Homo sapiens: one gene and its partners. The protein of the gene in region 3 purifies or fractionates together with the protein of the main gene of each other region. This does not show direct contact. Each region holds a gene or a part of one and is shown on either strand. Other genes may lie near its edges. The genes, in order: SERPINC1, TXLNG, TTC4, LUM, MYH2, PYGM and ACAD11.

Region 1 (3,500 bases), about 120 Mb from region 3:
TTATAGCAGGCCTGTGGAGGCCTTTTGCATGCCTTAACACTGGAAACAGGCCTTTTCCACGTGTTCCTGCTGTTCATGCATCTCCTTTCTGTACCCTAAGAGAGTGGGGAAGGTGTACTCACCTCAAGAAATGCCTTATGGAATGCATCTGAGACATAGAGGTCATCTCGGCCTTCTGCAACAATACCTGGAAGGAAGACCGGAGAAGTCTTTGTGAGATGGGAGAAAGTTGGCTTCAACCCACAGATGGGAATTCAGTTTGGATTAAGAGATCCTTTGGGGCTTTTTGAAACATAAGAAGAAATCCTAAATCTTCACCTAATCATACTCTCACAATGAATATGTGTTAAAAATAATAAAGTACTTTGGGGGCTGGGTGCAGTGGCTCACACCTGTAATCCCAGCACTTCGGGAGGCCAAGGTGTACAGATCACCTGAGGTCAGGAGTTGGAGACACTCTAACTAATATGGTGAAACCTTGTCTCTATCGTGAAAATACAAAAATTAGCCAGGTGTGGTGGCGCATGCCTGTAATCCCAGCTACTTGGAAGACTGAGGCAGGAGAATCGCTTGAACTCGGGAGGTGGAGGTTGCAGTGAGCCAAGATCACGCCACTGCACTCCAGCCTGGGCAACAAGAGCAAAACTGCATCTCAAAAATAATAATAATAATAATAATAATAATAATAATAATAATAATAAAAGTACTTTGGGCTTGTTCAGCATGGCTCCTGATAATTCATTCTCAGGCTTCAGCTTTTTGTGGGAGAGAGAAACGGCAAGACTCTGTTCTTACAGAAAAAACTCACTCCATCCAGAAGGAACATCTTTCTTTCCAGTCTGGCAACATTTTTAGTTTTCAAAACTAGCTTAAAGACAGCCCAATAGCACAGTGGCTCACGCCTGTAATCCCAGCACTTTGGGAGGCCAAGGCAGGTAGATCGCCTGAGGTCAGGAGTTCAAGACCAGCCTGGCCAACATAGTGAAACCCCGTTTCTACTAAAAATGCAAAAATTAGCCGGGCGTGGTGGCAGGCGCCTGTAATCCTAGCTCCTTGGGAGGCTGAGGCAGGAGAATCACTTGAATCTGGGGGGTGGAGGTTGCAGTGAGCCAAGATTGCACCACTGCACTCCAGCCTGGGGGACAAGAGCAAGACTTCGTCTCAAAAAAAAAAAAAAAAAAAAAAGGTCAATAAAGATAAATCTAATTACTTAACATCGTAAACTTATTTTATTATTTATTTATTTATTTAGTGATAGGACCTCACTCTGTTGCTCAGGCTGGAGTGCAGTGGTGTGATCACAGTACACCACAGCGTTGACCTCCCGGACTCAGGCAATCCTCCCAGCTCTGCCTCCCAAGAAGCTAGGACTACAGGTGTGCGTCACCATGCCTGGCTAATTTTTTTTATTTTTTGTAGAGACCATCTCACTATGTTGTCCAGGCTGGTCTCGAACTCATGGGCTTAGACGATCCTCCCACCTCAGCCTCCCAAAGTGCTGGTATTACAGGCGTGAGCCACCCTGGCCAGCCAACTTCTTTAAAAGATATTTTAATGTGCCAGGTGCGGTGGCTGACGCCTGTAATCCCAGCACTTTGGGAAGCCAAGGCAGGCGGATCACAAGGTCAAGAGTTCAAGACCATCCTGGCCAACATGGTGAAACCCATCTCTACTAAGAATACAGAAATTACCAGGTATGGTGACGTGTGCCTGTAATCCCAGCTACTCAGGAGGCTGAGGCATGAGAATCGCTTGAACCCGGGAGGCAGAGGTTGCAGTGAGCCGAGATCGCACCGCTGCACTCCAGCCTGGGCAACAGAGTAAGACTCTGTCTCAAGTAATAATAATAATAATAATAAATGTCAGTGAGGCCTGTGTAATGGGAACCACATTTCCCCAGCTCTTAATATCTGTCTCTTTGCTCTGAATTCCAATGCCCTTTCAAATTCCTCTCCACCTGGTCCCATCTCCTCTACCTGATACAGACTCACAGGGCACCAGTGCTAGCTGGGCCCATGGAGATCCAAGAACAAACTTCCCTTTTACAGAAGAGGAAACTGAGGTCTCAAAAGGAAAAGAGATTTCCACAAATTAGCAGTAGAAACTAGGATCAGTATCCAGGAGTCCTGACTTGTTGCTCCTTTCTATTCTTTCTCCAACTCTTCCACTTTTGGTCAGACTACCTTGCGGGTGGAGAAGGGAGGAAACTCCTTCCTAGACAAACCTGGGAGTTTGGACTTTTCAGGGCTGAACAGATCGACAAGGCCCATGTCTTGCAGCTGCTCCTTCAAACTGAAGCCGTCCTCAATGCGGAAGCGGGGCATGTGGACCACCAGCATCATCTCCTCCAATTCATCCAGCCACTCTTGCAGCACCTCTGGGGTGAGTTCCTTCTCTACCTTGGCCAGGCTCTTCTCAGGCTTGGGCAAGATGAGGACCATGGTGATGTCATCACCTTTGAAGGGCAACTCAAGCACCTGGGTGCCTTCAGCCACGCGCCGATAACGGAACTTGCCTTCCTGGTACATCATAGATGCTGAACACGACTCTCCATCAGCCTTGTAGAACAGTTCCTTCCTTGTGTTCTCAGGGCTGAACTTTGACTTCCACAGGCCCTGGAAGAGAATCACAAAGTAAGAACACAAACATTCATAGGAGGATAGTTATTGACACAAGACATATCCATATTATAGTGTTACATTAATATATAATTATTCGGAAAAAAGACTGGCGGGATATGCACAAAAAGGTTAACAATGGCTGTGTCAGAATGATGGAATTATGAGTAGGTTTATTCATAACTGTCAAACCTTGGAAGCAGCCAAAATGTCCTTCAGTAGATGAATAGACAGACTGTGGTACATCCAGACCAAATGTAATGCTATTCCATGCTAAGAAGAAATGAGTGACAAAGCCACGAAAACACAAAGGAACAGTAAATGCATTTTACTAGGTGAAAGAAGCCAATCTGCCGGGCGCGGTGGCTCATGCCTGTAATCCCAGCACTTTGGGAGGCCGAGGTGGGCAGATCACGAGGTCAGGAGATCAAGACTATCCTGGCTAACACGGTGAAACCCCGTCTTTACTAAAAAAAAACCAAAAAATTAGCCAGGCATGGTGGTGGGTGCCTGTATTCCCAGCTACTTGGGAGGCTGAGGCAGGAGAATGCCGTGAACCCAGGAGGCGAAGCTTGCAGTGAGCCGAGATCACGCCACTGCACTCCAGCCTGGGCGACAGAGCGAGACTCTGTCAAAAATAAATAAATAAATAAATAATAGATTGACCTGCCCTGCTGACCTGTACCTGTGTAGCTTTCGGCAGTCCATTTGCCCTCTCAGGGCTTCGGTCTCGCCATTTAAAAAAAAAGGGGGTAAGCTGAAGAGCAAGAGGAAGTCCCTGGGGTCTCTCCAGGGCCATTCTGAGTACCTTGAAGTAAATGGTGTTAACCAGCACCAGAACAGTGAGCTCATTGATGGCTTCCGAGGGAATGACATCGGTGA
Region 2 (3,500 bases), on a different chromosome or scaffold from region 3:
ATGATTATAACCTAAAATCTCAAATATCTGCTCTCCCATAAATTTTGAAAGTAGCTTTTGTCCATTTGTGATAAGAGAAGGATACTAAACACCTCCTCACCTCAACAGTATTATTCAGAAAAGGAAGAGGCCCTCTTTCATACAGAGAGTAAATGCACAGAATTTAAATTTGTGCCACATCATGACCAGGAAGTGTTCACAAGGGGAAAAAACTCAAATAGGGTTAACAATGTGATAGAAGACAGTTACTGACATAAGAATAACATACTGGAATAAAGGCATCTTTACCATGTGTATTAGGGCAGGGATAGCTGCTTAAAATATCAGTCTCAAAATTTCCATGGCTTAGCATGAGAGAAGTTTATTTCTTGTTCACCTATAGTCCAGTGTAGGTTTTCTTTGTAAGTAGGGTGGCTTTCCTGTATGTACATAGGATATGGAGGCCTAGGCTTCATTAATCCTGTGGCTCTGCCATCCCTTAGGGTCTTGGAGATGTCTGCATTTTGCCAGAGTCGGGGAGAGATGGTTGAGAAAGAACTTGTGCTTCTAAGAATAAAAGTCTTGGACAGTCGTGTCCTATGCCCACATTCAGTTGGTGGGAACTTCACGTGGAAGTCGCCCCTTGGTGTAAGGGGGCTGGGGAATAGTCCCTGGCTGGGCACTTGTCTCATAGTGCCAACTCCACAGGAACTTGGGGGAGCATGGGGTTTTGATGGATAGCTAGCTAGCCATCCCTGCTGTACTGTCTCCTTGAGGATAAGATTAGAATAATTAATATTCATTAACTGGGGACAGTTTCACTTCTGTTAAGGTGCTAATTATGTTAAGTGGTGAATTTTTATGTGGAAATCAATTTAGATTTATAACTAAATGGGTTTCTTGCCTCCTTTGGTACTGAATAGTTGTGTGATTCATTTTAACTAATTTCCTTATACTTTATAGTTAGGTCACCTCTCAGTGAAACCTAGAAAGTACCATATTTACATCAATTTTGCAAACCACTAAGGAAGAAAAAACTATCAGGCTATGATGTTCCATTGCTTGTAAACATTGATTACATTAGATTTAACCCCTTCTCCATCTTTTTTCTCCTTCTCCTTTCTTCTAGTTTGAAATTGGCACAATGGAAGAAGCTGGAATTTGTGGGCTAGGGGTGAAAGCAGATATGTTGTGTAACTCTCAATCAAATGATATTCTTCAACATCAAGGCTCAAATTGTGGTGGCACAAGTAACAAGCATTCATTGGAAGAGGATGAAGGCAGTGACTTTATAACAGAGAACAGGAATTTGGTGAGCCCAGCATACTGCACGCAAGAATCAAGAGAGGAAATCCCTGGGGGAGAAGCTCGAACAGATCCCCCTGATGGTCAGCAAGATTCAGAGTGCAACAGGAACAAAGAAAAAACTTTAGGTAATAATCCGTTCAGTGGTTGGACGTTTCACATGCTAATCATTTTACTTGTGTTTTCTGCAGCCCAGATAATTTTGAACACAGCCACTTTAGAGGTGCTTAGCCAACACCCCTAGTGTCTTCGGTGAGGTCAGTCCATGTGTCTGCTGCAGTTATGTGCAGGAGGCGAAAACAGCAGAGAGGACGCTTAGTTTTTTTTTTTTCCAAATAATCAAGAATTGGCTAATTAAAAAATTTTTTTTGTAGAGACAGGTTCTCACTGTGTTGCCCAGGCTGGTCTCAAACTCCTAAGCTCAAGCAGTCCTCTCCTGCCTCGGCCTCCCAAAGTGCTGAGATTTCAGGTGTGAGCCACTGTGCCCGGCCACATTGCAGTTATTTCTGATCATTTTCAGTAATTGTGTTTAATCGTCTCTTAAAGGTCTTATTGGCCTTGGGTTAAATGAGAGAAGATTTCATTAATAAAATTTTATGTGAGTAGAAAAGCATTCTTTTTTGAAGTCACCCTTTTTCCCCCATAGCAGTCTGTATGTCAGAGTTATTTTGAGATATATATTTTGATGCAATATCTTACATATAAGAATGAACATTAAAAAAATAAAAATGGTACCTATCACCTAGCTTAAGAAATAAAAGATTACCCCTTACTTCGAAATGCCATTAGTCCCCTCCTAATCTCAGCCACCTGCCTCTCTCTGCCAAAGTCCTTACAGTATTGCTAAGGTCTTTCCCCACAGGAAGAGCTATCTTGTCATCCTTTGGTTAGTTAACCTTAGTTAACACACAGAATATACTTAGTAAATCATAAGAAAAGCACACGTTTTTAAATTGTTCGTAGGAAAAGATATGTTCTCCTGTGATTATGTGTGTCTTTGGCAAAGTGTAGTACCAACTGAAACTCCCTTTGAACTTGCTTCTATATTCGAACTTGGTTAGGAGGAAGCTTTAAAAAAAATTCCATGCCCTTTGTAACTTGCCCTTTGTCTTAACTTGGACATCAGTGATTAGGCAAGGAAATTTATAAGCTTTTAACAAGAGTTCTTATAAATAGCTCGCAGTGTTAGTGAATGAGTTAAGAAATTTGGGGTGGGTATGGGGAGGGGAGCGAGGCCTGCTAATCCAGAATTTAAAAATTGCCTTTTTCATTGAGCTGGTAAATCTCTTATTTATAATCATAGGTGTAAATTAGTTTACTCTGGATGTCAGAGCACGGGAATTGTTAGTAGAATTTACAGGTTAGATTTGATCTCATTCTTCTGGGACTTATTTCTTTTCTTGTTAACCATCAGGAAAAGAAGTTTTATTACTGATGCAAGCCCTAAACACCCTTTCAACCCCAGAGGAGAAGCTGGCAGCTCTCTGTAAGAAATATGCTGATCTTGTGAGTATTAAGCCAAGGATGTGAGAGCCATATAAAATATAACAAAATGTGTGTGTGCTTGATAAGTTTCTTAAAGTACAAATTTGATATGGCCTTAAATGTAAAATTATATTTTATTCTGAAATTGAAGAAGAGAATCTGTTTTGTTGGGGCTTTTTATTGGTTGTATAGTTTCATTTTATGAGGTAATATATAGGGAACATTGTAATACTAAGATGTGGCATAGATTTTCTAAAACTCAGTTTTAGAGTCTAAGTCAGCCTTTCCATTGCTATGTTGTGATGCCTTAGGTGCCACTCAGTTGGGGTGTAGTGGTTCCTGTCTTAAACTTTTCCTAAGGGAATTCTAGAGATTGAGGACTGTTTTGATTGAGATTGTGAGTTACATGAAATCATCTGCTAAAACAATACTTTGTCTCAGAAATACTTCTTTAGCATCTACTATGTGTCAAGCATCCTTTTTTCCATTTTCTAGAAACAGTGACCTTATCAAAGAGTTTGTTCTCAGCTATATTATTTTATTTTATTTTTTTGAGACGGAGTCTCGCCTGTGGTCCAGGCTAGAGTGCAGTGGTGTGATCTCAGCAGACTGCAAGCTCCACCTCCCGGGTTCACGCCATTCTCCTGCCTCAACCTCCTGAGTAGCTGGGACTACATGTGCTCGCCACCACGCCTGGCTAGTTTTTTTAATTTTTTAGTAGAGATGGGGTT
Region 3 (3,500 bases):
AAGTGATCCACCTGCCTTGGTCTCCCAATGTGCTGTGTACTCAGTGGACCTTTTCAGTCTGGAAACTCATGTTTCTAGGACATTTTCCTGAATGCTTTGATATTTTTCTTTTTCTTTTTTACTCTTTTTTCTCTTTTTGGAAATCCTGGCTGCTGGTACTTTGGGAACCAAGTAGGAGAAGAGGACCAAGGGCTCAATCTTTAATATTTCCTTTACTGAATCACCTTTGTGCCTGGGGGTTCCAGTCCAGAGACCTACTGTTTTATTGTCTGCTAGGGTAAACCTCCAGTCCTCCACCTGGAGGAACAGGGGAGGAGTAGGTCACTGGTGCAGCAGAGGGGTAAGGAATATGGGACTCTGACTGCTTCTTAAGTAGATTTTCAACCCACCTTCACCCCCACTTCCAGAGGTACCTGGTGCCATCAGTTCCTGAGTCCTGAGTACTTTGTAGTTTCTGCAGTGCAGCTTGGTAGCTTTTGTGCTTTCCCTCTACTGGTTTAGAATTCAGTTTCCTTAAGCCTGATACATCAGTTACTTGTTCCTTTGTTTTCCAGCTTTCACAATGTGTTCTGTGTTCTTCTCATTTTCTTTGTCTTTATGGGAGAGAGAGTGGGGATTGAGTTAAATGTATGTGTTCAATCTGCCTCCTTTAACTAAAAGTCCTTGGATCCCTTTCATGTGCATTTTTTTCCATGGTTGAGATCCTGCTGTTCTTCCAGTTTGATATTCAGTTTTTTCACTTAATTTTATAACAAACAATTTCACCGTCATTAAAAATCATTTCTGAATGTTATTTCAATAGCTAAAGTTGCATCATATGGACATGCCACTATTTATACTGTTTGCTTTATTAGTCTGCTATTGTTGAGTATATAGACTGTTTTTTGGTTTTTATAAATAATGCAAAAATAAATAAAGTCATAATATTTTTCTGATAATTCTGATTATTCATTAGGCTAAAGCACGATTTGGCAAACTAGGACTCAGAGTCCACCCCTGGCCCCTTGGCTTGCCATGAACTAAAAATGTTCCATACTTTTTTTTTTTTTTTTTTTAAAGTGACAGGGTCTTACTCTGTTCAGGCTGGAGTGTACTAGCTGTGATCATAGCATAGTGCAATCTTAGACTCCTGGGCTCAAGCAATTCTCCCACTTCTGCCTCCCGAGTAGGTAGAACTATAGGCATGTACCACCATGCCCAGCTAATTTTTAAAAAATTTTTTGTAGAGAGAGAGTCTTGCTATATTGCCCAGGCTGGTCTTGAACTCCTGGTCTTAAGCAATCCTCTCACCTCGGTCTCCCATAGTGCTGGGATTGCAGGAGTGAGCCACCTCCCCAGAGGTTTCTTACATTTTTCAAGAATTGTAATAAAATGAAGAAGAATGTGCAGTAGACCACATGTGGCCTGCAACACCTAAAATATTTATCTGGCCCTTTACAAAATATTTTGCTGACCCCTGGGCTAGAGATTTAGGTAAATACTAAACCATTAAGTAATAATTATAGTATACTCCAGAAAGTTAAAGTATACCTCATGGCTTGCTAGTTTGGATAACTGGTATGTGTGTGACTGCATACTTTTTTTTTTTTTTTAATGCACTTACAAATATATACATGTGTGTCTAGATATTTAGTTTTTTTTTTTTTTTAAATAGGCTTCCTCTATACTCATAGAACCACCACTTAAAACAATATAGAACAGACATCCTACCGTGTTTCTTACATGAGGATCTATCTCATTCTTTTTAATGGCTGCATAGTATTCAATAGTATGGATTTACCATAATTCATGTAATCATTACCAAATTGAGGATATTTGAGTTATCTCCAGCTTTTCACAATTAAAGTAATGCTGTAGTTAACATGCTTTTACATTTATCCCTGCACATTTGTTCAAGTATTTTTGATAATTTTCCAGAAGAAAATTGTTGTGTCAAAGTATATGTACAAAATACATGCTAATTTGCTTTCTAATTTACCCTGAGAGTACCCCTTTTCCATATCTTTTCTAATACTAGATATTATTTGTCTAACTTTTAGCAATTTCTTAATTTTAATTTCCTAATCATTAGTGATGTTGAACGTCTTTTCATGTGCTTACTAGCCATTTACAGTTCTGTAGATTGCCTGTTATAGACATTTCTAAGGCTCTTGACAAGTACAACCATATTTTTTCAAAAAAACAGTTGCTCTCATTTGTATTTCCCCAGGATTGTACAAGAGTGTCTTTGTCACTACATATAAAATTTTGGAAACATTTTGATCTCAAAACTTCTCTCTTTTACTAAACGGTGTTTTGTTAGGCAATTTTCGTTCTGCTCTCAATGATGTGACAGCTGCCAGAAAGCTAAAACCCTGCCACCTCAAAGCAATAATAAGAGGTAAGTCTTGTGGAACTACAGTATGACATTTAAAGCTTTGATATGAAGGTGCTAGGATACTAATAAAGTCATCTTATTTTTGCAGTCTGGGTATTAAGTTCCTGTTCCTTATCAACAGCAACATGCCACTTTTAAAAGAATTCCTCAGAGAGTGACTTAACCCTTTATGTAATAATAATTTGTAGAGAACTAGAAGCCCCTCATTTTAAATTAATAAAAAATAAAATTAATTAAAACAAAGCAGTTGCAAAGCCATATTCTGATTTTTTTTCCAAATTAGCTGATTGAAAGGCAAGGTCTTCAAATGCCATGTTAATGTTAATTAAAAGATAAGTTATGGGACCTTTGCTGATGACTTTGGTGCTGAGATGTTCTCAGATTATGTTTTCTCTTGTAGTCTGACCTTTCTATGTAATAACAGTGCTTTTATTACTTTTATACTTCACCTTTTCTTTGAGAAGCTCATAGGTGCTTTGCAAACTTTAATTTATTCATCACATATTAATCTTCCCTGCATCCCCATGGACCAGCTTAAAATGCTTTTTCAAAATTATGCCTCTTTAAATGTTCATGGTTAAGGGCAGTAGGAAGATCCATGTCCCTCAGCTGTAGGAAAAGAAGGTACTGAACAAAGATTGGCTGATAAATTGAATCTAGGTAATCCTGTGGAATTTGCCTCAGGCTAGAAGTGTGTAATCCTTGATTCAGTTGTTGGTTTAATTTACAATGTGACCTTGGCAAGACACCCACTTTGAATATCAGTTTGCTCATCTCTAGAAGATGGGGTTAGAATCTGTTGGCATCTAAGCCCTTACAATGCTTATATTTTGAAATTCTGTGGAAAACCTAAAGAGGCTAACTGGAGAAAAATGTACATGATAACATGAAATTTTTTTTTTTTTTTTTGATGGGGGAGAGGCAGCTTAAACTGGTAGCCATAAAGAACAAAATTAGGAGACACCTAATGTTTTTGGCCTTGCCACTGCCTTGATGAATAGCTGAAGCAAAGTCTGCTTTTTCCCTCCATTGAAAAAATCATCTGGGATGGACTTTATTCTTCCTGTTTGCAGATGAGGAACCTAAAGCTTGGATATGCTTGGTCCTTTGTCTAAGGTCTAGC
Region 4 (3,183 bases), on a different chromosome or scaffold from region 3:
AAGTTTCACCAGATTTTCTTCCCTCAGCACCTCACTAGGGCTGCCCAGTGAGTGAAGGAGTAAGTGGGAATCTTCTCTTCTCCAGCTTTGCCCTGAAAAGATGAAGTCTTCCCTCTAAAAAGAGGAGTTGTTCCTAAACAGGGTATATTCCTTTCCCAGATGCTTCTACAACAAAGTGTCACTAAGTGCTTAACTTTGTCTTTGTCAACCAACATTAACTACAAAGGGAACTGCTGTTTTAAAAGTCATAGTTTTGCTTCTTAGGCATGAGAATAACATAGGACTTTGGATAGAGAGAAATCAAAGGCTTTTAAAGATGCAGACAGACTGTCTGCTGAGAAGATGTTTCCTCTAAGTAGTATAGAGACAAAGCTCATTTAATTCCATCACATTCTTTCTAAAAGAGAATTTATGGCACATTATCTACCCTCTATTTGAGAATAGGTTTCCAAGGCTTGATAGTGACTTTTGTAGACAGGGAAAAGAAAATTCATTTTCAATTCATCTACATTATAGTTTTATCGAGAAAAAGTAGATTTCAAGTTTAAACCAACAAATAAACTGAGGCTGCTATCACACTCTAAGGAATTTACCTTAATGTAGAAAACTCATGAAAATCAAAAATACACATTGTACCTAATGTAATATCCATCGCACATATCTGCCAGTCAACTCAGTCTCAATGATGATCCTCTGATGAAAGGCCGCTGTACCATAAGATAGAGTTCACTAAAAGTGGTGTGTTAAAACATTTTATGCCTTAGAGATACATTTTATTTGTACTAGACACATATTTGACTATATATACACTGGTATGGGATGAGCAGACCTTTGTCTGCATAACATTTGGCTCCACACATAGGTTTTATTGTTAACTAGGTAAAACAGAAGTTATTTTTATAAATTATATGCAGAGTATTTATCATTGTATAGAATTGTATATACTCATAGAAAGCTGAAAGCTGTTATTACTGGATTATGAACTCAAAACCTATGATCCAGACATATTGGCTTCAAGCTAAAATGATTTTTTAAATATCTATTTCAGAAAATTTTATATTCATTCATTTTTAATCCTGTGAGTTATCCACCATTTCTTGACAACCAAGGAGTGAGTGCTGAGATCACATAGCAGCTTCTTATCTAATAGAATACCATTGTATATGAACCAGTAAAAACACCAGGAATGGGAATAATGACAAATATCTAAGTAAGTTGTGAAATCTAAGTACCTATTATAGGTGTTTTTAAGAACTCTTTGTAAGTGAATGCTAGAAGTAGACAAATTATTTAGTGGAAAATCCTATGTTCACATCAGTAAAATATTGCAGGCCAGAGATATCTTTTGATTTCTAATCTATTGTTTTATGTATTTTATATACAAAGTACAGAAATTTCACAAGAAGTCAAACACAGTGATGCCATTTGCTATGTTTTATTTTGCTAGTAGCTTATTAAACATAACATGCAAATAATCAAAGAGAAACATACATGACTTAGAGTGAAAAATAATTCTAGAAAAGTTTCACTAGGTAAGTATGCAAATTCTTATTCTAAAAATACTTCTTTAAGTGCATGAAGCTTCATGTATTTTGCAATATTCTTGGCCTCAATATCTACCACCTATTTTTTAACCAGACAAATTTGAATGTATCAAGATAATTTGGTGCAAGAGAGTAACATCCATATGTATTTAATCCAAGCTTTGAGGAACATTAAGATTTAAGGATTATAAAACTTGGCTGATTTCCATGCAACCAGTAAAAGGTTTTGCACATCATTTGACAGTAGAAATAAAAAAACACTAAATTTACAAATAAAGCATTGAGTTTGATGTCTATTCGTGTATATGTGTGTGTTCTTGTGATGAAATAGGCCTGCCTTTCATCTTTTCTTTAAAAAAAATAAATGTTTACAAAACATTTCCCTCAGATTTTAAAATTCATGGAAGTAATAAACAGTAATAAAATATGGATACTATGAAAACTGACACACAGAAAAACATAACCATAAAATATTGTTCCAGGATACAGATATTAATTAAGAGTGACTTCGTTAGCAACACGTAGACATTCATACATATCCGGTGGAAGACTGGTTTCTGAGATGCGATTGCCATCCAAACGCAAATGCTTGATCTTGGAGTAGGATAATGGCCCCAGGATCTTGCAGAAGCTCTTTATGTCAAACTCTAAAAATTAAAGAATAGAAAACATTAATCATTTTTCAGTACACTGGCTCAAAACAATACAAAAAATTTATGTTTAATATATTATAAAATAGGACCTCTTCCCATTTAGAAAAGTCATAATATAGTATATGTTTGAATTTGCAACCATTAAAGGCATATTTCAGGCTACCAAAATGGCACAGTAACATTTAGTAAAGAGTAATCATGGTAGATCAAGATATTCAGTGGAATATTTTAAATAACAGAACTTATTTTATTACTAGAAGTTGTTTTTAAAAAGGCATTCAATAAGTGTGTCATATTATCTAACAACTTTTTTGAAATAGTATAACCTGAAGAAATATAAATGGATCCCATTGTTGTATGAACAATCTCAGTATAAGTACTCTTTGGTTTTACATCTAAAAATAAGAAGGGTTAACTAGATGATCTATAAAGAATTTTCTAGCAACCACATACCATGACCATGATAAAAATTCCAAGACAAAAACCAAATCATTCCAGCAATCACACACCATAGCAATGATCAAAATTCTAAGGCAAAAACCTAATCATGGCATGTCCACCATCTGAACTCATGTTTTTGTTTATTTGTTTATTTTTGTCCATGGTCAAAAAGCTGCCACAAATGAAACACTGACTTACTTTGTAATAGAAACCAAGAGTGTTACTGAATTGACTGACCTGTGTATACACAGAAACTATGTTTGCCTATGTCTATTTTAGATTAACATTTTCAAGTCCTTTATCTTGTTTTCATTTTCAAACTCTAGTTAACAAAGACTTCAGTGGAACCCCAAACACACATGCTTTTTAAAATAACTCATCAGTTAATTCCAGGGATTTTTCTATGGTACCAACATTTGAGAAAGTGAGGAAAAATGGAAAGAAGATGGGCATAGTCCCATCTTGGAATTCTACCTCTGCCACTTACCCAGGTGGGCAACACTGGAACACTTATCTGATCTTGTTAGAAATAACACATCTATCTT
Region 5 (3,500 bases), on a different chromosome or scaffold from region 3:
AGTACATGATTTTCATCAGTCTGGCTCGGAGGCAGTTATGACACAAAGAAGCTGAGTTTGTATTTTCCACCATTCCCAGGCCCGCATTGAGGAGCTGGAGGAGGAAATCGAGGCAGAGCGGGCCTCCCGGGCCAAAGCAGAGAAGCAGCGCTCTGACCTCTCCCGGGAGCTGGAGGAGATCAGCGAGAGGCTGGAAGAAGCCGGTGGGGCCACTTCAGCCCAGATTGAGATGAACAAGAAGCGGGAGGCTGAGTTCCAGAAAATGCGCAGGGACCTGGAGGAGGCCACCCTACAGCATGAAGCCACAGCGGCCACCCTGAGGAAGAAGCATGCAGATAGTGTGGCCGAGCTTGGGGAGCAGATTGACAACCTGCAGCGAGTGAAGCAGAAGCTGGAGAAGGAGAAGAGTGAGATGAAGATGGAGATTGATGACCTTGCTAGTAATGTAGAAACGGTCTCCAAAGCCAAGGTACTACAAATTCTGGGAAATTGTTATTGAAAATAATGCATTATGGACACATCATAGTTTGCACAGGGCACTTTTTACACATTAAGTCATTTGTTAACTGCAGTAATTCAGGGAAGTAAGCACAAAAAATCAGCATTTTTTATTATTTCAACTTAACAAATAAAGGATCAGAAATTCAAAGAGGCCAAGCACTTTGACCCATCACGCCATTAATAAACGACAACACCAGCTTTTGAACATAAGCCATCTGTGTTCTCCAAGTCTCCAGTTATAGAACAAAGGTCTCCAATTATTTCAAGGAAATTGAAATAAGGAAAGTTTCATCGTACATAAAGGCAATGAAGTATTTTAGAACATGCTTTTAGAAAATGTACACTATACAATTCTAACAAAATCTTAAAATTAGAATATAACCTTAACATTTTCATATTAATATTGAACAGAGCTCCATGATTAGCTTTCATAAAATATAAGAAAAGTCAACCAAGTGTGGTGGCGCGCGCCTGCAGTCCCAGCTATTCAGGAGGCTGAGGCAGGAGAATCGCTTGAACCCGGGAGGCGGAGGTTGCAGTGAGTCGAGATCACGCCACTGCACTCCAGCCTGGGGACAGAGCAAGACTCTGTCTCAAAAAAAAAAAAAAAGAAAGAAAGAAAAATTTTTCTGCATTACATTACATATAAGATAATTTGGTTTCTTTTCTATATTAAGATAAATATTGTATTTTTTATTTTGGGGAGAAGTTACAGTAACTGCAAAGGTGATTATTATTCGCTTAAAAGGTCTCTGTTTTCTTCTTTTACTTTTTCTTCTATAGGGAAACCTAGAGAAAATGTGCCGGACTCTAGAGGACCAACTGAGTGAACTGAAATCAAAGGAAGAGGAGCAGCAGCGGCTGATCAATGACCTGACTGCGCAGAGGGGGCGCCTGCAGACTGAATCTGGTAACTCTCCCCTCTTCTGTGCAGCTTCAGGGTGGAGAGGATGTGATTAAGAACAACGGACTGATTTGGTGAAGTGGGAGCCTAATAAAACAGCTGAGAACATGTCTGATTCACTGAACAGCTCAGACACCTGACCTATGTGCAAGGTCATCTTGGGACAATGCTGGAGATAAAGGTTTCAATAGGACAAAATCAAGCTCTGTTCCAGAATGGCCTTGAGTATTTGCTCATTGCGAGGATGCTGGGATTAGCGGTTACTCCAGCATGAGTTCAGGGCTTCTCTTTCAGGCCAAGTTTCTCTTTATTTATATGAGGGTCAAGTAACTTCCAGAATGGGGCAATGAATATCCCAGTCTCTCAAAAGTCCTATGGAATGGGGACCCTGTAGAATTAGACATTTTAGCTTACTCATTTGACAGTCCTCACCAGATTTTGCACAATATCATATAATTCTGAAAGAATTAGTTATGGAAAGGACAAAAGGAATTTAAGCTGTATTTATTCATTCCGATTGATCTGAAAGTTTCACCATAAAAACTGAAAACCTGCATTGAGCATGAAGATGTCAGTATAGAATTCAACCATCTGAGCACTCAATTTGGGAAAATAAGAGTCAAAATTTCTTTCTAACATGGGCTTGCAGAATCTTGTTTTTCACCTAAAAAATGGTGCCATTTCTTTTGTCCATCAGGTGAGTTTTCACGCCAGCTTGATGAAAAGGAAGCTCTGGTGTCTCAGTTATCAAGAGGCAAACAAGCCTTTACTCAACAGATTGAAGAATTAAAGAGGCAACTTGAAGAGGAGATAAAAGTAATTATGATTCTAAGACTGATTTTTTCCCTCATGAGCTGATTCTACATGGAGCCTGTTATACCAGCTTTCAAAAGGTTTTGAAAGTTAAGAGTTAAATATTTAAATATCCAGTAAAATGAAGGTGTAACTGCCTCCATAGGCCAAGAACGCCCTGGCGCATGCCCTGCAGTCTTCCCGCCACGACTGTGACCTGCTGCGGGAACAGTATGAGGAGGAGCAGGAATCCAAGGCCGAGCTGCAGAGAGCACTGTCCAAGGCCAACACCGAGGTTGCCCAATGGAGGACCAAATACGAGACGGACGCCATCCAGCGCACAGAGGAGCTGGAGGAGGCCAAGTATGTGCACAGATATGAGAGAATGAGCAGAAAACTTTGCATATTGAATCAGAAAGACATGACCTTTGAAGATTCAGTGAATTAGTCCACAAATGCTCATTAATCTGCTTTTATGTGCCAGTCACAATCAGGCCCTGAGAATAAGACATGAATAAATCAAATATGGTCCCTGCCTTACGATCCTAAAATCTAGTTAAGAAAACAAAGAAGAGCAAATAATTACACTGATAATTAGGGGCCTCATTGCTGTTTGTCAAGCACAATGAGCTCATCGCTGCATCAGGGGCTTGTACCTGCTTTTCTCTCTGTCTGAAATACCCTCTCCACAGACTTCCCTTTGGCTCTCTGACTTTTAGCTCTTGACTCAAATATCTCTTCATGGAGGCCTTCACTGAATATCTAGAGTAGTTGCCCACCATTTATTTTATTTTGCTTCATTGCACTTGTATCTGTAAGGTATTATTACGGATGTTCTGATTTGCTTATTGTTTACCTCTCTCACTTGTTTGTGGTCTTCATGAAGCAGAGATCTTTTTTGTCTTGGTCACTGCTGCGTAGCCAGTGTCTGGTTCATAAAAGGGGCTCATCAATATTTGTTGAAAGAATGAAAGGTGGCTGGGCAGCATTAATGTGAAGTTTCTAACACTCTTCAGCGTGTGTGGCAATAGCTCATAATTCATATTATGGTTCACTTCTCTCTGAAAACATGTATAATATTCAAGGAAGAAGCTGGCCCAGCGGCTGCAGGCAGCTGAGGAACATGTAGAAGCTGTGAACGCCAAATGTGCTTCCCTCGAAAAGACGAAGCAGCGGCTGCAGAATGAGGTCGAGGACCTCATGCTTGATGTGGAGAGGACAAATGCCGCCTGTGCCGCCCTTGACAAAAAGCAAAGGAACTTCGATAAGGTAATTCCTCCAGCATCTTCTGCTCTTTACTCTA
Region 6 (3,500 bases), on a different chromosome or scaffold from region 3:
TTTAAAAAATTAGCCAGGGTGCTGGTGCATGCCTGTAGTCCCAGCTACTCTGAGGCTTCAGTGGGAGGATCACTTGAGTCCAGGATTTAAAGGCTGCAGTGAGCTATGATTGTACAACTGCACTCCAGCCAGCCTGTGTGACAGAGTGAGACTGTTTCAAAAAGCAAAAAGACCAAAAACTGAAAACCTTAAAACCAAACCAGGTGTACAAATCCCAGTTTAGGCCGGGCGTGGTGACTTACACCTGTAATCTCAGCACTTTGGGAGGCCAAGGCAGGTGGATCACCTGAGGTCAGGAGTTCAAGACTAGCCTGACCAATATGGTGAAACCCAGTCTCTACTAAAAACACAAAAACATTAGCCGGGCATGGTGGCACGTGCCTGTAATCCCAGCCACTCAGGAGGCTGAAGCCAGAGAATCGCTTGAATCCAGGAGGTGGAGGTTACAGTGAGCCAAGATAGTGCCACTGCACTCCAGCCTGGGTAACAGAGTGAGGTCCCATCTCAAAAACAAACAAACAAAAAACAAATCCCAGTTCAGGCAATCTTCCTGCTGAAGCTTCAGGTCATCAGCCCCCAGATGGGCTGCAGATAAACCACTAGGCTTTCAGAACTGAGCATTTGTTTGTTGTCCTCCAGGTTAAGATGCAGTGGGGGCTGCTGGCAGTCCATGCCAGGTGCACGTGGCAACTGGCACAAGTGGCTGTGGCTGGAAGGCAGGAGACCTGGCTCCCTCTGGTGCTGCCAGCCTGGCTGTGTGCTCGGGGATGGGTCCCTTCCCTCTCTCTGTGTCAACTCCCACCCTGCACCAATCAGGGTGACTGAATGTGGGGAGGGAGGGCGATGCCCCTTAAAAGGGCTCGCTTAGAGGAGTGAATGTACCCCTGGCACCGTGGTAGCAGACAATTATTGATGTTTGCTAGTTATGGAAGGCGGGGCAGAATTAGTCACCGTGAATTAGCCCTGTGGTCAACCAGAGATGAGACCTTTGGATGGACTTGACCTCTGTGACCCCTTCAGCCTGGCCCTGGGTTCCCCCAGCCCTCTCATGAGTCCACAGTGTCCTCTAGCTTTTGCTCAGGCCAGGCTGGCCAGCCCAGCCCCCATTGCTGCAGAGTGGTCGCCAACAGAGCCCCTCCTGGGTTCCGGGCTTATCACCTGCCTCCTTCCATTTTCCTCACCACCGTCTGCCCAGGCAGGGCTTATGGGTGTCGGGGAGGTGTTGAGGGTGTCTTTGCTCTAGATGCGGTCCAGAGAGACTATGGGGTTTGCTCATGGTTACCCAGCTCATCGATGCTAGACAAGGACAAGAGCCTGGGTCTGCAGAGTGCAGGGATAAAGCCTTGAGTCCCAGCCCTGAGGGGAGGGAGGCAATTGCCAGGGCTGGCCAGCTCCTGACAGGATTGCCCCCCGCAGGTGGTACTGGCCATGCCCTACGATACGCCCGTGCCTGGCTATCGCAACAATGTTGTCAACACCATGCGCCTCTGGTCTGCCAAGGCTCCCAATGACTTCAACCTCAAGGACTGTGAGTTCATCCACTGGTAGCCAGCAACCCCAGCTTGCCCGCCGGCCACGCCCAGCGCAGGCCTTACCCTGTCCCCACTTTTGTCCCTCAGTCAATGTCGGTGGCTACATCCAGGCTGTGTTGGACCGAAACCTGGCGGAGAACATCTCTCGTGTCCTGTACCCCAATGATAATGTGCGTCACCCCCTGGGCTGGGGGCTGGAAGCCTGAGTCCTTGGCAGCAGGGGTCAGGGAGAGCTGGGGAAGGACACTTGCTGGTGCCCTAGTCACACCCAGGGCATATTGCTGGCCTTGTGCATCCTGTGCCCCCACCTCAAGTCTTTTGAGTGCAAGGACACCTGAGTCCTGAGGAAACTGGGTTAGCGAAGGGCACTTTGGAGGGGCTGTTCCCTGGCGACACCCACAACACACTCGGTTCTTGTACCCCTCTTCCTGACACTGTCTCTCGCCACTAGTTCTTGGTGGAGGAAAGGCCCCTGGGTCCCAGAGAGGGGGCCGGCTCAGGGCTCAGGGGTCCCGGTATGGGTGGGAGTCCCTCCTGGCCACACCCACCGCAGCTTTAGGCCATGCCCCCACCGCCCTGACTCACGCTGCCTCATGCTGTCCCCAGTTCTTCGAAGGGAAGGAGCTGCGGCTGAAGCAGGAGTATTTCGTGGTGGCTGCCACCCTCCAGGACATCATCCGTCGCTTCAAGTCTTCCAAGTTCGGCTGCCGTGATCCCGTGCGCACGAACTTCGATGCCTTCCCAGATAAGGTACCATGCGTGTGGAGGGCGACTCTGTGACCGGACAGTGTGTGCTAGGCCTCTCCCTCCAGCCTCGGCCTGCCTGCCCCATGTAATAGATAAGGGAGTGGAGACTGGGAGTGTGGGAGGGTCAGTTGTTCAGGATTCACAATCCACAGGCTCAGAACCTGGGCTTCCCTCCTCCTCCCGCCCCACTCCCCCCATTCCTCCCACCCCCATGAGCACCGGCCTGCCTCTGCCCACAGCCCAGTCACAGAACCGTGCTGGGCTCTCTGGGGGCCTCCAAATGGCATAGGGCAGTGACCATAGCATGGAATGTGGTTTGGAGCCCAGACTGACCCCTCCCCCTACCCCAGGTGGCCATCCAGCTCAATGACACCCACCCCTCCCTGGCCATCCCCGAGCTGATGAGGATCCTGGTGGACCTGGAACGGATGGACTGGGACAAGGTGGGCTTCAGGGCCCCTCTGCCCCATCTGATGCTCTCTGCCTCGGGGTTCCCTTCCCAGTTTGGGAGCGTGGGAGGATATGAATGGAGTGAAGGGATCAGAGCCTGAGGCCAGAGGGACCGTCCTGGAACCTGGCACTGCAGTGGGGGGGCCCACTGGGATGCGTAGTGTGTGAGGAGACCCACTGGGCTGAGGTCAGCATCCTGACTGCCCACCCCGTGTGCCAGGCGTGGGATGTGACAGTGAGGACCTGTGCCTACACCAACCACACGGTGCTGCCCGAGGCCCTGGAGCGCTGGCCGGTGCACCTCTTGGAGACGCTGCTGCCGCGGCACCTCCAGATCATCTACGAGATCAACCAGCGCTTCCTCAACGTGAGTCCGGAGGCTTGGGGGATGGTGTGGGGGTGAGGGGGGACACCCAGTCTGGGCCTGGGAGTCGGGGCGTCCAGCCAGGGCCCTGAGACTCTGGGGCAGTGGGGGCACTGGGCAGAGCTCTGGGGGTGTGGGGCTGGGGACTGGGGATGGGGGTTCCTGGGTCTGGTTCTAGCTCTGGGCTCTCTGGGCACAGCGGGTGGCGGCCGCATTCCCAGGGGACGTAGACCGGCTGCGGCGCATGTCGCTGGTGGAGGAGGGCGCAGTGAAGCGCATCAACATGGCACACCTGTGCATCGCGGGGTCGCACGCCGTCAACGGCGTGGCGCGCATCCACTCCGAGATCCTCAAGAAGACCATGTGAGCCCCGCTTTCCAGATCCCGCCCCTCTCTAGGCCCCACCC
Region 7 (3,500 bases), on a different chromosome or scaffold from region 3:
AATATGGTGAAACCCTGTCTCTACTAAAAAATACAAAAATTAGCCAGGCATGGTGATGGGCGCCTGTAGTCCCAGCTACTCAGAGGCTGAGGCAGGAGAATCGCTTGAACCCAGAAGGTGGAGGTTGCAGTGATCTGAGATGGCGCCACTGCACTCCAGCCTGGGCGACAGAGCCAGTCTGTCTCAAAAAATAAATAAATAAAATTTAAAAACTGGCAACAACCGAAATGTCCTTCAACAGGCAAATGGATAAACCAACTGATACATACTTACAATGGAATACTACTCAGCAATAAAAAGGAATGAACAGTCAATACACAGAACAATTTGGATGAAACTCAAAGGCATTAAACTGAATGAAAGAAGTTGGTCTCAAAACAATACATGCTATATGATTCTATTTACATGACATTCTGGAAAAGGCAAAACTATAGTGATGGAGAACCTATCAATGGTTGCCAGAAGTTAGGAGTGAGAGGAGCCTGTGACTAAAAAGGGGCAGCACCAGGGAGTTCTGTGGGAGATGGAACTGTTCTGTGTTCTTGACTGTGGTTATTCCAATCTATACATGTATTATAATTCAACTGTCTACTAAAGAAAAGGTCATTTTTAATGAATAAATAACAATAACAACACAGCAAATTGCTGCTGAACTGTCCCCACACTGAAATTGTGCTGAGAATTTTCTAGTTTACCTGTAAGCAGCTTCACTACCATACATTTAGCCAAGTTTCCATGACAGCAGGCAATTAGCATTCAGGAGGGCCTTTGAGTGGTTTGGCGGTAAGGCAGTTGCTCAGTTCAGCCATCTTTACCTTAGACATTAAGATATCCAAAATAAATGATTTTTCTGGGAAAATAAAATTTCTTTCTAAAATATTTCAATTTTAACTGTAAGCATTCCACAAGTATGTGGTTAGGCTGGTGTATATCAAATGAATTAACTCTTCCATTTAAAAATACATAGAGTAAAGCTTGTGAACAATCTCTGGCTTAGAGAGTGTTTTCACCAAACTATAAGACTGTGTTACACGTGGACATCAGATACCAGCTTAGCTCCTCCTTCTTTTGCTGCCTTTTCCTCCCCTATAGGAGGTTGTGGCTCACTGGATTGCTGAAAGCCGCATTGCCATTGAGAAGATCCGCTTGTTGACTCTGAAAGCTGCTCACAGCATGGACACTCTGGGCAGTGCTGGCGCTAAGAAAGAGGTGAGGCTACCTTCTCCCCTCAGACCACCAACTGCTGAGCCTTCTCCAGTTCTCTCACCTGTTGGACATTTCAGTTTTCATGGCATCTTGATGGCACTCAGAATATTGGAAGCCCCCATGTGATTTTGGGTTATAAATTATAAATGCCTGTCACTTGCTAGTCTCCTAGCAAGTGCTTTAGGGAATGATTTTCAGGAGGGAGAATATCTTCAGCATTCTTAAGATACAGCAACAAGGAATGGGGGAAATCATAGGCTTTACACAGCCCTGGAACTGCACCCACTCTGCCACTTTCTTCTAGCCTTGTGATCACGGGCAAAGTACTTAACTTTTCTGCCTAAGGCCTAGGGTTGTTGTGAAGAGTAACCAAGATGATGTACATAGAATGTGCAGAAGCCACGTACAGTGGCTCTCGCCTGTAATCCAAGCTACTTGGGAAGTGGAGGTGGGAGAATTGTTTGAGGCCAGGGATTCGAGACCAGCCTGGGCAACATAGTGAGACCCTGTCTCTTAAAAAAAAAATTAGCCGACATGGTAACTTGTACCTGTAGTCCCAGGGAGGCTGAGGCAGGGGGATTGCTTGAGCCCAGGATTCTGAGGCAGCAGTAGTGAGCTATGATCACACCTGGGAATAGCCACTCCACTCTATTCTGGGTGACAGAGTGAGAGCCTGTCTCAAATAACAAAACAAAAAATGCACAGCATGATACTGCTACATAGTAAATGTTTCATGAAAGAGACCTCTCATCCTTTGCTTTCTTATGTTTCTGGATTATATGAAATAAAGACATAATCATTTAATTCTAAAAGCCCATAAAACTGCTAAAAGAAACCTGATTAATAGCGCAAAGACCCTTGGACTATTTTTATGATCCCTAAGGTGATGAGTGTGATTTATCAGCTGCCTGAAATCCTTTTGGAAACAAGACAAGTTAGAAATAAATGGATAAAATGTGATTTGGAAGAGGTGTCTCTTTCCAGAGGGTCTGTATTGACTGAAATATGGCATTGCAGCAGGATCTCTTTGTTGGCTTTTGTTAAAGATCCTGTTTTAGTGGTGACTTGGATGTGGGAAAGTTTCCTTGTTTCATTTCCCAGTTTTGCCACATTGTGTATAGTCTAAGAAAGAAGCATTCTTTTCATATTTTGCTTATATAGATTGCAATGATCAAAGTGGCTGCCCCACGGGCTGTCAGCAAAATCGTTGACTGGGCCATCCAGGTGTGCGGAGGTGCTGGTGTTTCCCAGGATTACCCTCTGGCTAACATGTGAGTAGATGTCATTTAAGAATCATCTACGTTTGATAGGCGTGGAGGTAAAAAATCTACAGATGCCTTGACATTAATTGCTTATGTTTATTTTCAGTGTAATTGAAGGCTAAATGAAGTGATATACATTAATATAGAGCTCAACACCAAGAAATAGTTGCTCTTATTATTACAATAATCATTTCATTCCATTATGTTAATTTTTACACTGAGGGGTCCCACTGAGGATTCCTGGGCTGTAGATACAGCATGGGGTTTCGCTGAATTTGTAGCAGGACATGTCAGTGACTATCTAATATATAGATCCTGATGACTGGGAGGCAGAAAGGAACATTCTCCATTCCCCATCTGTCCATCTCCACACATAATTACAGTGTCACCTTCTCTATCACAATGGAGATAGAGTCTCATCCTTCATCAATTTTAAACCTTAAGAAAGAACTAAATATATAGTATCATACCAGTCACTGCCTGTTCTAAGTTCTAGCAACATGTAGTAAACTGTAGCAAACCAAGAATGAGATGAACTCCACTGTACTTTGGCATTTAACTTTCCCAAGTTGGAAACTTTAAGATGGCATTGCAGAAGCCCTTTAGCTTATTTTCCTGGTACCCTTTTTCTTACCCTGACCTTGGTGGAATTTAAGAATTAATATAGTCTTGGTTGACAATCAGAGTGACTGATGTCAAAGTATCATGTTCCTCTTCCATAACTCCCTGTGTTCCCTGATTCTTTTGCTTTTTCAGGTATGCTATAACCCGAGTTTTGCGTTTAGCAGATGGACCTGACGAAGTTCATCTTTCAGCAATCGCAACAATGGAGCTGCGGGACCAAGCCAAAAGACTGACAGCCAAGATATAAGGAGGGTGGCACTGCCACATCCCACTGGCAGAAACTCTCCTTTATACAAACTTCATTGGCTCCAACATTTGAATCTCATATTTTTGTAGCAGTTTGAGCACAGGGTTAATTATTCATTTGTGGTAAAGATTATAGCATCTATTTTGATCAGTGGGTTTTAT

What was found.
Region 1: the proteins of TTC4 (region 3) and SERPINC1 purify together in Homo sapiens (co-immunoprecipitation; one large-scale study listed by IntAct). This does not show direct contact.
Region 2: the proteins of TTC4 (region 3) and TXLNG fractionate together in Homo sapiens (co-fractionation; one large-scale study listed by BioGRID). This does not show direct contact.
Region 4: the proteins of TTC4 (region 3) and LUM purify together in Homo sapiens (co-immunoprecipitation; one large-scale study listed by IntAct). This does not show direct contact.
Region 5: the proteins of TTC4 (region 3) and MYH2 purify together in Homo sapiens (co-immunoprecipitation; one large-scale study listed by IntAct). This does not show direct contact.
Region 6: the proteins of TTC4 (region 3) and PYGM purify together in Homo sapiens (co-immunoprecipitation; one large-scale study listed by IntAct). This does not show direct contact.
Region 7: the proteins of TTC4 (region 3) and ACAD11 purify together in Homo sapiens (affinity purification with mass spectrometry; one study listed by BioGRID and IntAct). This does not show direct contact.

What each region holds. Positions count from the first base shown.
Region 1 is NC_000001.11:173,907,328-173,910,827, forward strand, and holds part of SERPINC1 (antithrombin-III isoform 1 precursor), read right to left. Parts: coding exon 3,427-3,500; coding exon of another isoform or gene 3,304-3,426; intron 2,616-3,303; coding exon 2,225-2,615; intron 188-2,224; coding exon 123-187; intron 1-122. UniProt on the Homo sapiens protein: Most important serine protease inhibitor in plasma that regulates the blood coagulation cascade. AT-III inhibits thrombin, matriptase-3/TMPRSS7, as well as factors IXa, Xa and XIa. Its inhibitory activity is greatly enhanced in the presence of heparin.
Region 2 is NC_000023.11:16,817,466-16,820,965, forward strand, and holds part of TXLNG (gamma-taxilin), read left to right. Parts: intron 1-1,108; coding exon 1,109-1,412; intron 1,413-2,698; coding exon 2,699-2,790; intron 2,791-3,500. UniProt on the Homo sapiens protein: May be involved in intracellular vesicle traffic. Inhibits ATF4-mediated transcription, possibly by dimerizing with ATF4 to form inactive dimers that cannot bind DNA. May be involved in regulating bone mass density through an ATF4-dependent pathway.
Region 3 is NC_000001.11:54,718,861-54,722,360, forward strand, and holds part of TTC4 (tetratricopeptide repeat protein 4), read left to right. Parts: intron 1-2,302; coding exon 2,303-2,380; intron 2,381-3,500.
Region 4 is NC_000012.12:91,102,129-91,105,311, forward strand, and holds the end of LUM (lumican precursor), read right to left. Parts: intron 2,192-3,183; coding exon 2,037-2,191; 3' UTR 501-2,036; downstream 1-500.
Region 5 is NC_000017.11:10,525,659-10,529,158, reverse strand, and holds part of MYH2 (myosin-2), read left to right. Parts: intron 1-79; coding exon 80-469; intron 470-1,284; coding exon 1,285-1,411; intron 1,412-2,102; coding exon 2,103-2,221; intron 2,222-2,363; coding exon 2,364-2,560; intron 2,561-3,282; coding exon 3,283-3,466; intron 3,467-3,500. UniProt on the Homo sapiens protein: Myosins are actin-based motor molecules with ATPase activity essential for muscle contraction.
Region 6 is NC_000011.10:64,753,475-64,756,974, reverse strand, and holds part of PYGM (glycogen phosphorylase, muscle form), read left to right. Parts: intron 1-1,416; coding exon 1,417-1,528; intron 1,529-1,619; coding exon 1,620-1,702; intron 1,703-2,138; coding exon 2,139-2,282; intron 2,283-2,629; coding exon 2,630-2,722; intron 2,723-2,949; coding exon 2,950-3,096; intron 3,097-3,292; coding exon 3,293-3,456; intron 3,457-3,500. UniProt on the Homo sapiens protein: Allosteric enzyme that catalyzes the rate-limiting step in glycogen catabolism, the phosphorolytic cleavage of glycogen to produce glucose-1-phosphate, and plays a central role in maintaining cellular and organismal glucose homeostasis.
Region 7 is NC_000003.12:132,558,810-132,562,309, reverse strand, and holds part of ACAD11 (acyl-CoA dehydrogenase family member 11), read left to right. Parts: intron 1-1,092; coding exon 1,093-1,209; intron 1,210-2,367; coding exon 2,368-2,477; intron 2,478-3,224; coding exon 3,225-3,339; 3' UTR 3,340-3,500. UniProt on the Homo sapiens protein: Acyl-CoA dehydrogenase, that exhibits maximal activity towards saturated C22-CoA.